Linked DNA regions of Homo sapiens. The protein of the gene in region 1 purifies or fractionates together with the protein of each later gene. This does not show direct contact. Each region holds a gene or a part of one and is shown in the gene's direction. Other genes may lie near its edges.

Region 1 (3,820 bases):
AGGAGGATGCAGATGTGGAATGGAAGTTCGCCCGAGCAAAACTCTGGCTGTCTTACTTTGATGAAGGAAGAACTCTACCTGCTCCTTTTAATCTAGTGCCAAGTCCTAAATCATTTTATTATCTCATAATGAGAATCAAGATGTGCCTCATAAAACTCTGCAAATCTAAGGCCAAAAGCTGTGAAAATGACCTTGAAATGGGCATGCTGAATTCCAAATTCAAGGTAGGTAGCATGTGGTTTATGAGGCTGGAGAAGGCAGCAGGAGGGGGCAGGCGAGTCTAGAGTGTGTTTGAGTCATATGGCTGCCCTCCCCCACCCCATGCAAGGGGAGCCAGGAGCTGGGAGGGCCGGTACTCTGTAGAGTCTACCTGGACACATCTGAAAGCTCCAATGCCAGCAGAGGCTACTGTGATACCCTCCTTTCTCCTTGCAACCCCTTGGAGAGGTGCCCTGCTGGGGACATAGTAAGCTGCCTGGCTAAGCCATGACCCCAGTGAAGGGAACCCCTTAGTGGACTTGGAAATGGAACAGCTTTTCTCAGAAAGTATCTGGAAAATGATCTCTGAGAAAAAGGTTTCCTTCCCACTGTCTGGCTTTCCTGGGGATTCTCAGTGTTTATTAGTATGTTAAAACCCCTGGAGAAAAGACATCCATGTAACCTTAATTCAGTGCTTTCCAACCAAGTTGACTAAATATTCTGTAACCCTTATTAACATCCTACAGAGCTAAAGGTCCTAGGAACAATGTTCTAGGAAGCCAAGCAGCACCAGGTAAATCAGCTTTCAAAAGCTGCTTCACTGAGACAGCCCCGTATATGGATACTGTTCAAGTCCTACGAGATATGTAGGGATGCATGTATGTTTTTCTGTGTGATGTGTGTGGGTTTGTTTGTTTTATCCAGAAGACTCGCTACCAGGCTGGCATGAGGAATTCTGAAAATCTGACAGCAAATAACACTTTGAGCAAGCCCACCAGATACCAGGTAACCACCCCTTTCCCAAGCATCCAAGCATGGGCAGAAGTAGACTCCACTAAGACACAGATTTAGTCCCATGACTGTGTCATCCCCCGAGAACACAGCTTCATTCCTTCCTTTATTGTACAAATATTTATTGAGTACTTACTATATGTCAGGCACTGTGCTACTTCCTGGGGATACAGATACAGATGTGGTTCCTCCCTCAGTGGCACCTCCAGTCTAGTGATGATGGACAATAAACAAGTCAACACACAGATAAGTGTATGCCCTCAAACTGGTAATAGTGACAAAAAGCAAACAGGAGGACTCAAAAACAGAGAAAAATAGGGAGCTTCAGCCTAGATATAGTTTTCAGAGAGGACATCTTCAAGGAGAGAACAGTCAGCCGAGACCACTCGGATGCAGGAGGCAGCCATATATGGCCTTCCAGGCAGAGGAAGAGAAGGGTGGCAGGTCCAGGGCAGCTGGGCCCTGTGGAAGCAGAGGGTGGAGGGAGTGAGGTCAGAGGGCCAGACCACTGTCAGGATGGGGGAGAGGGTAACTTTGCCCAGGAGGGGAGATGATGAAATTGTATTCGCGCTTTAAGAAAACCACCTAACTGCTATAATGAGAAGAGACAGGTGGGGACAAGAGTAAAAGCAGGGATACCAGTGAGGAGGATGTGACAGTCATTCAGGTACAAGGCATGGTTGCTTGGATTGGGGTACGAGCAGGGTGATAGAGAAAAGCAGACAGATGCTATACACTTTCTGGATATATAGCTGCTGGGCACATATGGGGAGGGCGAGGCACACCCAGCATGGCTCACAGGTTTCTGTCTTAAGCAGTCAAGTAGATATAGGTGTCTTCAGACTTGGACTGCCAGCCTGCCAAGTCTGTTGTCAGAAAAATTAGAAAAAGAACTTTTATGCTTCCAATCCTTGCATTGCTTTTGGAAATGAATGCCAGATCTCTGTATCCGTTTGGATCAGCCCATGCGCCAGTGATAAACGATAGCTACAGATGATCAATTATAAAAGGGCAGGCCACTCCTTTCCTGTCTTCCACTTCTCGATGATCAGCAGTTTCACCTATGCTGATCATTTCTTATCAGATGTAAATTTTAAGCTGTCCTGAGCATTCCTTTGGGTGGAGGTGATGTGCCCCTGGTGCCACCTTCCCACAGGGAGAATTACAGACTTAGATCTTTTAGATACAGGTCTCTAACTGAATCTCTCCAACCATATTTCAGAAGCCAGCTGTGCAGTTAGGAGAATTTAATTGCACAATTAAGAAATGGCTCATCCCTCAAAGAGCTTATAGTTCTATCAGATGACAGGCGAAAAATTAGCAATGGGCAAATCTTGTGTTTAATCGCGCACAAAATTGGCACTGACTGGTTTGATCTGCTTTGAGCTATTTTACAGACCAAAGCCTTTGGTCAGTGAAAGTATTTTTATTTCTCAGCTTTTCAGAGAGAAGTATAGATTATCTGTGTCACAGAAAAGATAGATACCCAATGGGTTAGGGCCAAATCTCTCCTAGGTTTTGAGCAGAATTAGCTCCTGAGATAAAGGAAGATCAATTCTGTGTGAATGTCCCATTCCAGAATGAATCCTTTCTGAAAGAGACCATTTTCTTTTCTTTTTTTACTTTTTTTTTTTACTTTATTTATTTATTGATTTTAGACAGATTTCACTCTTGTTGCCCAGGCTGGTGTGCAATCGTGCGATCTCGGCTCGCTGCAACCTCCGCCTCCCAGGTTCAAGTGATTCTCTTGTCTCAGCCTCCCGAGTAGCTGGGATTACAGGCATGCGCCACCATGCCTGGCTAATTTTGTATTTTTAGTAGAGATGGGGTTTCACCATGTTGGTCAGGCTGGTCTCAAACTCCCGACCTCAGGTGATCCACCTGCCTCGGCCTCCCAAAGTGCTGGGATTACAGGCATGAGCCACCACGCCTAGCAGGAGACCATTTTCAAAAGCAGTCTCAAAGCAGTCCCATCTCTGTCTTCCGTCCTCGCTGGTTGAGTCCATACTGCCTTGAATCTCCCCAGGAACTTCCTGCTGTGATTACAGAGATTGGTCATCTACAGCTTCAGGCAACTGATGACCTTGGAAAGCTTTGCTCATTTTGTAATTTGTGACTCCACAGAAGAAGCCTGAGGTGACTTATTCAAATAGTTGTCACAGAAAAGAAACAAAAAGCCAGCCAGTAGGCATCAGAGGAAAGGGGCTGAGAGAAAGCAGTCTTTGCACATTGGCTCTTGGCTCCACCCTGCTAGGCTGTGTGGCATCGTCCTGAGTCATCATCTGCTCACAATTGGAGTAAACCCTGAGATGTCACTAAAAGATACCTGGATGCAGGCTGGACACTAGCTCACGTGTACTCTCCCATATTCCTTGGAGATGGGCACTGTCTTCAACCCCATGTAACAGATGAGGGAATTGAGGCTCAGTGGCCAAGGCCACACAAGTGACTGAATTGAGATCTCTCTGACTCAGAGGGCCCCCCCTCTCTCACCACGTCATGCTGCCTGGACACCTGCCTATTATTTATCTTCGTAGTTTTGCACCAGCACCCTCCTCAGAACCTTTCTTGCCTGTGTTTGACAGTCACCAGGAAGAGACCTATTTGAGCCTTCCAAGCACACAGTGAGGAGGCAAGGAGCAGAAGGCACTGGGGCACTTTTGCTGTCAACAGCAGCAAGGACAATTTGAGGGGGGATCTGAGTATGGTTCCTCTCTTTCCTTGGGCCTACCAGTGGCCTTCCAAGTAGCATTGCTTTCCTCCCACAGCAGCTTCCAAATGTGCAGAGAACATGAGCAGCCCAATTCACCCCCTCCTTCTTACAATCCAG
Region 2 (3,820 bases), on another chromosome or scaffold:
CAAGCATCTCTGCTGTCTCTTCCCCTTCTTCATAAGGGCACCAGTCATATTGGATTGGGGCCTACCCTAATGACCTCATTTAACCTTAATTGCCTCTTTAAAGGCCTTATCTTCAAATACAGTCCCATTAGGGGTTAGGGCTTCAACATAGGAATTTGGAGGGAACACCATTTCATAACGCTATCTCATTGCACATTTTTTTCACATAAGTCATATGTAATCTACAGTTTGAGGAGAATCTGAATAAACACATTTGGGTCCCCCAGTTCAGAACTATATCAGTGAGGTCTCAAAGAGTTCAGGCCTGGGACGGGTCTTGCAATACAGATCAGGTGTGGTAGGAAGAATATGGAAGGAGTTTACAGTAGGAGGACTGTTGTAAGGTGGCCTGGTAGCAGCAGGATGCTTTCCTAATGGGGGTAGAGTGTGTATGCTGGGGGGATAATGGAAGATGTTCGGATGAGTTTCGGGGGATTCCCAATGTGGTCTGCCACCTGAGCTGATGGCAGAACACTGGGATGAGGCAGGAAGCCAAAAGTGGTGGCTTTCAAGCGTTAGTAAGCAAAAACTCACCTGGGTTACATACTCAGAATGCATGTTCTTGAGGTCACCCAGACACAGTGCGATGTCCCCGCATATCAGAGGGTAAGACCAGAAAGTTTCCAGTTTTAAATGTCTCCCCATATGATTGTATAAAAGTTTGAGAACCATGGGCCTAAGGCGCTATGTAGGTCTTTTAAGAGCAAAGTGGAGCACTGATGTGGGCGTGGCCTCCTAGGGATCGTGACCAGATGCCCGCTGGTGCTGAAACTGAAGAAACTTGTGAACGAAGATAAGTGGAGAGGCAAGGTCAGTTACCAGGACTACGAGATTGAGATTTCGGATGCTTCAGAGGTAGAAAAGGAAATTAATAAAGGTGAGTACCCCCTGTTTGGATGCCTGGTCAAGCCTTCTGACATGCATGGGGTCTGTTTGTAACTGTTCATACTCCCACCTCCCTGGGCCTGTGCTGTCAGGACACCTTTCTCCTGCACATCAGGCCACGGTTCCTTCTACTTCTTTTACCTCATTATGACCAGCACGCTTGGATATCAGCATCTGATAGCAATCATTTATTTCTGGCCAGGCACAGTGGCTTGTGCCTGTAATCCCAGCTCTTTGGGAGGCTGACACGGGGGGATTGCTTGAGCCTAGGAGTTCAAGACCAGCCAGGGCAACATAGTGAGACCCCGTCTCTTAAAAAAAAAAAATTAAAATAGCTGGGCAGGGTGGCATGCACCTGTGGTCCCAGCTATTCAGGAGGCTGAGGTGGGAGAGTTGCTTGAGCCTGGGAAGTCAAGGCTGCAGTGAGCCGTGATCTTGCTACGGCACTCTAGCCTGACAACAGAGTGAGACCCTGTCTCAAAAACACATGTATTGCTTATTATGTAAGTATCTAGAATAATGTGAATTTTAAAATGTCCCCACATATGGATGATCTGTCCCTTATTCAAGGGCTTCCCTACTTAGATCTGGCAGGAAGAGGAGCCAGATATGGGGGTGAGGGAGCTCCTCCCCCTGTTCCTTTGTACAAGGAACTCCACATTGTGGACAGGATCGTCACTGAACCCCACTCAGAACCAGCACCCTTTTCTAAGAAAGAGGAGTGACTGTGTTTGCATAATCCCAGCTTAGGCTAATTCATGGCAGGCCTCCATAAATGCAAACCACAAGGATCAATTTGAAGTGTCTGCAAGGGGAAATGACACCAGCAGTGTAGACAGGGTAGAGTAGCTGACAAAGAACAGCCTCTGTGAGATGCATGGATAACATCTTCCTATCGACCTTCATGTTTTTCTGGCATGTCACATGTTTAAGTTTCATTCACACTGGGAAGGTACTGAAGAGACATGAACTAATGCCCAGCAGTAGGAAGGGACGGGTTTAGCATTTGTAAAGATGGAGCATTAATCACATTTGTTGACTGTTTAAAGAAAGATAAATAATGTTATTGACAAACCGTGATTTTGAATTAGTTGGGATTAGGTTGGCTGCTTGCAGCAGAAAACTCAAAATAACTGTGTGCCTTAGCCCTTGCTGTATAACAAACCCATCTTAAAACTAATGGCTTGACCACTTTTATTTCTCATGATTTGATGGACCAGCTGGGCAGTTCTTCTCTGGGCTAGCTGGGCTGGGGCTGATGGTCCAGGATGGCCCTTGGCTGGAGTGACCGGGCCTTCTGTCTGTGTGGTCTCTCACCCTCCAGAAGGCTAAGCTGGACTTATCAATGTGGGTGGAGGGGTTCCCAGCAGCAAGAGAGGGCAAGACCCGACATCTAACACCTTTCGGTCTCTCCTGACGTGGCACTGTGTAACATCCCCTTAGCCAGAGAAAGTCACGTGGCCAAGCCCAATTTCAAGGGACCGATTTTCTCTCTCTCCATGGAAGTGACGAAGGCACCCTGTAAAGTAGCGTGCATACAGGGATGGAAGGGAATGTGGATGCCATTGTGCCAGCAAGTTGCTGAGACAGCGGTCTAAACAATGTAGAGGCTTTCTGTCCCTCTCATATAAGTCTGAAGGCGGGCAGACCAGAGCTGATTGGGGATTCCAATGTCAGGAACCAAGATTTATTCTTCTCCCATTTCTTCATTGGGTGTGGCCTCTGTTTCCAAGGCCCCCCCGTGACTTAGTCAGCAAGTCCGCTTTGAAGCCAGCTGGACCATGGCAAGGGGCATATCTCTGCCTTTGTAAGCACACTTTCTGGAAGTTGCACATAACATTTTCACATGGCCCATTGGCCAGAACCCGATCTCATGACCACATGGCAGGTACATGGATATTGGGGGAACAATTAGTGGACCATAACCACTGATATTTCCTAAGTTCTAAATTGATATCAAACATCCCAAAAAGGCATTCTAGATTTAGAAAAGAGTAAAGTGGTGTTAGCCAACAATTTGATGAAACAAATTCATATCCTAAAATTCATTAAGGAGGAAGGAGCAAAATAAAATCTCTTAATGGGATGTTAACAGCCAGTGCTTATCTTAGCTAAAATAAGCACATTTCCCCATATAATTTTCCAGTTTATATTTTAGGCATTTCCATATATTTTTATTTGTTTTTATTTTGCTTGGTTGCTAATTTCCTACTGACATCAATGAGAAGGATTTAGGAATGCTACCAGGAAGAACTTCTTGCCTCCGCCCAGCTTTGGACTGGTCTAAGTGGGTGTCACTCATGGTGACGTTCTCACAAGGTCTCTCTACACACAGTGCTGGCCAACAGCAGGGAAAATACTGAGTTATCCTTTGAGATCTCTTTTATCCCAATCACAGAAAATTGAATCTGCTCCAAATATGCTTTTATCCATGACTCGCAGAGAGGAGAAGATGCTTTCAGAGTATTCACCATCATGAGATCCGTTTATCCTAAGCTCTGTTTGGGTTTGATTTTCCCTGTCTCTTTTCTAGCCCAGAATGCCATCGCCGGGGAAGGAATGGGAATCAGTCATGAGCTAATCACCCTGGAGATCAGCTCCCGAGATGTCCCGGATCTGACTCTAATAGACCTTCCTGGCATAACCAGAGTGGCTGTGGGCAATCAGCCTGCTGACATTGGGTATAAGGTCAGACTTCAGACCCATTCTGACCTTGGCCGTGGCGTGGGGATGGGGGAGTGGAGGGGTGGGAGGAGAAAGAGGGTACTGTATTAGAGTAACCGTGAGTCCAGAGCTGAGTTTTGGAGTTAGTATTTGGAGGTGTGAGTGGGGAATTTAGAGAGCCCGTTGGTCACAGTCTGTTCTGTCAAGTTGAATGGAAGCTTCTTTGGAGAAA

The links.
Region 2: the proteins of TRPC7 (region 1) and MX1 purify together in Homo sapiens (pull-down; one study listed by IntAct). This does not show direct contact.

What each region holds. Positions count from the first base shown.
Region 1 is NC_000005.10:136,222,438-136,226,257, reverse strand, and holds part of TRPC7 (short transient receptor potential channel 7), read left to right. Parts: intron 1-2; coding exon 3-224; intron 225-903; coding exon 904-984; intron 985-3,820. UniProt on the Homo sapiens protein: Forms a receptor-activated non-selective calcium permeant cation channel. Probably is operated by a phosphatidylinositol second messenger system activated by receptor tyrosine kinases or G-protein coupled receptors. Activated by diacylglycerol (DAG).
Region 2 is NC_000021.9:41,436,237-41,440,056, forward strand, and holds part of MX1 (interferon-induced GTP-binding protein Mx1), read left to right. Parts: intron 1-778; coding exon 779-916; intron 917-3,457; coding exon 3,458-3,612; intron 3,613-3,820.